Linked DNA regions of Homo sapiens. The protein of the gene in region 1 interacts with the protein of each later gene in a pairwise test. Each region holds a gene or a part of one and is shown in the gene's direction. Other genes may lie near its edges.

Region 1 (2,810 bases):
TCCAGGATATATTAAATGGGGGAAAAATAAACATGCAGAGACAGTCTATATAGTATGCTGCCATACTTCAGAAAAGGGAAAAATAACTTTTTGCTCATATATGCACTTTTTAAAAAATCACTCAATGTATTATCACACTGGCTCTTCTTCTTCCTTCTTCCTCCTTTCTTTCTTCTTCTTCTTCCTTCTTTCTTCTTTTCTTCTTTCTCCAAGAAAAGCACACTGGTCTTTAAGAAAAAAATAAAAGAAAAAAATCTGCTGGGCATGGTGGCTCACACCTGTAATCTCAGCACTTTGGGAGGCCAAGGCACTTTGGTAGGCTGTGGTGGGAGGACTGCCTGAGCTCAGGAGTTGGGGGCTGCCACTGCACTCCAGCCTGGCTGACAGAGACCCCATCTATAATTTAAAAAAAAAAAAAAATAGGCCAGGCGCGGTGGCTCACGCCTGTAATCCCAGCACTTTGGGAGGCCAAGGCAGGCGGATCATCAGGTCAGGAGATTGAGACCATCTCGGGTGAAACCCCATCTCTACTAAAAATACAAAAAAATAGCCAGGCATGGTGGCGGGCGCCCGTAGTCTCAGCTACTCAGGAGGCTGAGGCAGGAGAATTGCTTGAACCCGGGAGGCGGAGGTTGCAGTGAGCTGAGATCGCACCACTGCACTCCAGCCTGGGTGACAGAGAGAGACTCTGTCTCAAAAATAAAAAAATAATAATAATTTAAAAAATCACTCAGTGCACAAGAAACCATAATATTGATGCCTGGGGTGGGGGTGGGGGAGAATAGGGTGGGAATCGGTAAAGGGAGGAAGATATTTTACTATACTCATTGAATTTGCTCAAACATTTTAAAGTTTGTACAGCCAGGTGTGGTGGCCCGCATCTGTAATCCCAGCTACTCAGGAGTCTGAGGTGAGAGAATCACTCAAGGCCAGAAGTTTGAGCCCAGACTGGCAACATAGCAAGACCATGTCTCTAAAAAAATAAAAATAAATCGAAAAGTAAATAAAAGAGGGAAAGGAATAACATACTCAACTTCATAAAGATGTGGGGAAGTCAAATCAATCACTTATAGTAATTAGCGCTGTGCCTAATACATGTTAAGTGCATAAACTTTGGCTGTATTTGGAAGTACCAGCCATACCCACCAACTGCATCTGCCTCCCCTATCTACTCCCCCCACCGTCAGCCTATTGCCAATCAGCTGACGCGCTTCCCTCGAGAGTAGCCTGACCCTTTTCTTGCCCCCATAGGCTGATCTACTGGCTGACCTTTGCCGTGGGCCGCTCCTTCCGAGGCTTCGGCTACGGCCTGACGTTTCTGCCACTGCTGTCGATGCTGATGTGGAACCTCTACTACATGTTCGTGGTGGAGCCGGAGCGCATGCTCACTGCCACCGAGAGCCGCCTGGACTACCCGGACCACGCCCGCTCGGCCTCCGACTACAGGCCCCGCCCCTGGGGCTGAGCCTCTCCGCCCTCGCCCTCGGAGTAGGGGGTAGCGGCTTGGGTCTGACACATCTTTGAACCTTGTGGCCAGGCCTGGACTTCGCCCCCAGGCCTAGGACCGCGGTGGGTGGAACCCTGCTACTGCCCCAACAGGGACTCCAATCAATCGGAGTTCTCCCCTTGCCGGAGCTGCCCTTCACCTTTGGGGCCCGAGACAGTCATAAGGGATGGACTTAGTTTTCTTGCAGGGAAAAAGGTGGACAGCCGTGTTTCTTAAGGATGCTGAGGGCATGGGGCCAGGACCAGGGGAGAGGCACAGCTCCTTCCTGAGCAGCCTCTCACCACTGCCACAAGGCTCCCTAATGCTGGTCTCTGCTCCACTCCCCGGCTTCCCGTGAGGCAGGAGGCAGAGCCACAGCCAAGGCCCTGACCACTTCTGTGCCAGTTGTCTAAGCAGAGCGCCTCAGGGACGCTGGAAATGCCTTAAGGATAGAGGCTGGGCATCACATCAAATGGGACTGTGGTGTTTGGTGAAAACCTTCCTGAGGATCTGGATTCAGGACCCTCCATGACTGGCCTATTTACTGTTTACAGCTGGCCAGTGCAGAGCTGCTGCTCTTTTACCTTTTTAGGCCCCTGTAACTTCCCACCTTTAAACTGCCCAGAAGGCATGCCTCTCCCACAGGAAGAGGGGAGCAGACAGGGAAATCTGCCTACCAAGAGGGGTGTGTGTGTCTTTGTGCCCACACGTGGTGGCTGGGGAGTGCCTGGATGGTGCGGTGGTTGATGTTAACCTAGTGTGTGTGTGTGTGTGTGTGTGTGTGTGTGTGTGTGTGTGTGTGTAACAATAAATTACTACCAGTCTTTGCTGGCTCTTTTTTCCTGTTTGTCCCCCAGTCTCGAGTGTCCCTTCCCTGTTTAATTCAGATGACGATAGAAACCTCCCAGCTCTACCTGGTGGAGCAGGGCTGGCAGGTTCCTTGGTTCCACAGCAAGGAAATGGAGCCTCAAACAGAAACTTGCCTTCCAAGCCCATCTCTTAGCCCTTCCATTCCCTGGAACCAGCCCAAGACCAGCCCAACAACACTCACACATCAAGAGACTGGAGCCCTGTGAAAAAAAATAAATCTATTTTCTTGCCTTCCAGGGCAGCCAACCAGTCAGAATGCCTCTCATTTAGGCCTGCAAGTCCCATCCAAGGGAAATGTGTGGAGATGCAAGAAGGCAACACCAAGGGGACCTTATCAATAGCCCTGTCCCCTGCCCGCCTCCAAAGTCCCCCAACAAAGTATGAAGGAAGCCCCACCTGGGGGTCTCCAGGAAGTCGAGGCTGGCCTCTGAGGTTCCACAGAAAAGCAAGATGG
Region 2 (3,500 bases), on another chromosome or scaffold:
ATCCTCTGCCGCCTGGGTTCTAGTAATTCTCATGCCTTGGCCTCCCAAGTAGCTGGGATTACAGGCACCCACCACCACACCTGGCTAATTTTTGTATTTTTAGTAGAGAGGTGGTCTCACTGTGTTGGCCAGGGTGGTCTTGAACTCCTGGCCTCAAGTGATCCGCACACCTCGGCCTCTCAAAGTGCTGAGATTACAGATGTAAGCTGCCACTCCCAGACAGTAAATATTTATTAAGCATTTATTCTATGTGAGTCATTGTGCTAAGTGATTTACATGCATTATCTTATTCATTCCTCACTGGAACAGTGTGAGGTAGGTACTGTACCATCCCTGTTCTGCAGACAAAACTGAGGCATGGAGAGGTTAAGTAAATTGCCAAATGCTATGCAGACTATGAACCCACATCTGAGTCCAGAGCTCCAGCTCTTAACCGCTATCCTGTATTGCCCATATACCCCTGTTGATATTAATTGGGTCAGATCCTACCTGCCATTTGACCCCAGTACCAGATATAGTACTCTCTTTTTTTTGGTTTATGTGTGCTTGCTTGCTTACCAGTGCGTTAAGGAACCACATCCAGAGATAGCATTTGAAACTACTTCATGGACCTCACCCTTAGCTACTGCTTTCTTCACTAATAGCATTTTTTCTAGTTTTGGGACATTGCTCCAGTTTAGGTTAATAGGAGCTATCCAATTTCAGTTTCCTTTAATGCTATTCCATGTGTTTGAGTAAATTATCCACCAATAATAAGGTGATTCCTGCCTGTTATATGGCAGTTCTCTGTGGAGGCATGAATGTGAAATATAGGTAAAAAGCCAAAGCACTGCTTGACGAATGCTGTTTCTAAGGATGGTCGTTTATGAATCTTTCTTTTCTATTTGTTATCAAGAGTTTTCCTTCTGAAAAGGCAGAAGATTTTACAGCAGCAGGAGAGAGATTCCTTTAAGAAGACGAAAATCATGAAGCTTATTTCTTCTTTCTTTCACTTTCCCCAGAGTCTAAATGGTGTTTGGCTGAACAGAGCGCGTCTGGAACCTTTAAGGGTCTATTCCATTCATCAGGGAGACTACATCCAACTTGGAGTGCCTCTGGAAAATAAGGAGAATGCGGAGTATGAATATGAAGTTACTGAAGAAGACTGGGAGACAATATATCCTTGTCTTTCCCCAAAGAATGACCAAATGATAGAAAAAAATAAGGAATTGAGAACTAAAAGGAAATTCAGTTTGGATGAATTAGCAGGTCCTGGAGCTGAAGGCCCCTCAAATTTGAAATCCAAAATAAATAAAGTGTCTTGTGAATCTGGTCAGCCAGTGAAATCACAGGGGAAAGGTGAAGTGGCCAGTACACCCTCTGACAATTTGGATCCTAAGTTGACTGCCCTTGAGCCAAGTAAGACCACAGGGGCTCCCATTTACCCTGGCTTCCCCAAAGTCACAGAGGTTCATCATGAGCAGAAAGCCTCAAACTCTTCAGCATCTCAGAGAAGCTTACAGATGTTTAAGGTGACCATGTCCAGGATTCTGAGGCTCAAAATACAGATGCAGGAAAAACATGAAGCCGTTATGAATGTGAAAAAGCAGACCCAAAAGGGGAACTCAAAGAAAGTTGTGCAAATGGAGCAGGAACTTCAGGACTTACAGTCCCAGCTGTGTGCAGAGCAGGCTCAGCAGCAGGCAAGAGTGGAGCAACTAGAGAAGACTTTCCAGGAAGAGGAACAGCATCTTCAGGTACCACACAGAAGGGAAGGGCAAGAGTGGTCTTCAGGGGTGGGGCAGGCACTTCATGAGTCTCTGGCCAGAGTTCTCAGTTTCTGGGCCAGGTACCAAATTCTGAGCACCAAAGACAGGAAATGGAATGGGAACAGTAAACTTTTGAGATAAGGGAAGGGGATTGAGTAGAGGGTTAAGGCTTCAGCATGCTGATGAGATCAGGAGCCAGAGTTAGAGTGCCAAGATAGGGTAAAGTGACCAGCAGAGCCAGCCAGGGCATAACTCATCCCAGGAGGCAAAGCTGAGGCAACTCAGAACCAACATGAATTCAGGGGGAAGTTAGGTGAAGGTCAACATGCCACAAAACCACAGTATAGTCCAATTGAATCAATAGTTGTCTTCAAGACTTGTGTATCTTTGCTCTGTGGCCAAGGCCAAATCACTTAGTCTCAGGGCAGGTACAGGTCAGCTGGTTCCTCTGCCCTGGTACCTGACAGTTTGTTAGCTATAAAGGTTAGTTAACTCTGTAGCTAAGCCAGGAGGTGAGGGGCTAAAAAGGCAGAAAATGTTTTTGTTTCTATTTTGAGCAGCCAGCATGTGATGGGACAGATGCACCATGACTGCATTGTTGGGTTGAATGATAAACCACCTTCCACAGTGCCTATAGTAGGAAGGTAAAATAATGACTGTCTTAGCTGTATAAAGGTAAGACCAAATGTATTTCCATCCCTCAGTCATTTGCTTAGATGACAAGCTCTTGCACAAAGCTTTAGGCTAGAGCAGATCCTGTCCCTGCTCAAAATGTCATTTCCTATCTGGCAGGAACCACATATTTTGCTCCCACCCAGTTGCTCAGATAATATTGAATGTCAAGAATTCCCCATTGTTGACTTAGAACTCAGACGGACCAGTCACAACTAAAGTGAATAAGCTTTTTGTTTGGGTTGCTCAGGGTAAGGAACAGCCAGGGGTAGTGTTGGCTTATTTCTGAGCAATTTATAAATTTCATTCTGATCTCTGCCATCCCCTTGAACTGACAGTATTAGCAAAGGCCATGGATTAAATAGGTCTTTTGAGAGTATACACTGCTTACTTATGTGTACCTTTTTGCTTCCCTTATCCAGCCTAGACTAGTTCTTGAAATTAATAGAGGGTGGTTTATGTCTACGTGTTTAGTATATCACACCTTCACCAGGACAGAACTCTCTGTAAAGGCTAATATGTTCAGGAACAAGTTACTGTTGCTTAATATTTGTGGCTGCTCTGGACATGCCTCAAGGTATAGCTGCAAAATCTTTTTCTGTACCAAAATGTTAAAGGCGAAAGGATTGGTTTAGAGAATTTCTCTGGGTATGAGTTGGTTGTGTATATGATGCTCATAGTGAAGTGTATCTAGTCCCTTGTTTATCAGCTGCATCTCCCTCTGCCCACCAAGCCCTGAGGATTTATCCTATCCCCTACTGCTGGTTTAGAAGCTCATTAAACCCTTGCTCCTTCACACTTTTTTTTTTTTTTTAAGTACTCAAATTGCCTGGTACTAGGGAATTCTAGTGGTTATAAAGATGCTTACCAAATGGTTTTTGCCATTAAGGAATTTATCTTGTTGAGGAGGCAAGATGTTTCCTGCACACGATATAATCAGAGAATAGTTTTCAGTCAATATAGTAAATTAGAGAACAATTTCAAGTTGGCATATTAAATGGGTAGGTAATTCTTAAGGACAGAAGGGCCCAGAAGTTCTTTTGGAAGGTGCTGGACATATAGGTTAATGATCACCTGGAA

Evidence for each region. The genes of interacting proteins can lie anywhere in the genome.
Region 2: the proteins of TMEM79 (region 1) and RNF8 interact in binary tests that used the Homo sapiens proteins (3 or more experiments, as listed by UniProt).

What each region holds. Positions count from the first base shown.
Region 1 is NC_000001.11:156,290,134-156,292,943, forward strand, and holds the end of TMEM79 (transmembrane protein 79), read left to right. Parts: intron 1-1,251; coding exon 1,252-1,465; 3' UTR 1,466-2,310; downstream 2,311-2,810.
Region 2 is NC_000006.12:37,367,483-37,370,982, forward strand, and holds part of RNF8 (E3 ubiquitin-protein ligase RNF8), read left to right. Parts: intron 1-895; exon of another isoform or gene 896-1,001; coding exon 1,002-1,736; intron 1,737-3,500. UniProt on the Homo sapiens protein: E3 ubiquitin-protein ligase that plays a key role in DNA damage signaling via 2 distinct roles: by mediating the 'Lys-63'-linked ubiquitination of histones H2A and H2AX and promoting the recruitment of DNA repair proteins at double-strand breaks (DSBs) sites, and by catalyzing 'Lys-48'-linked ubiquitination to remove target proteins from DNA damage sites.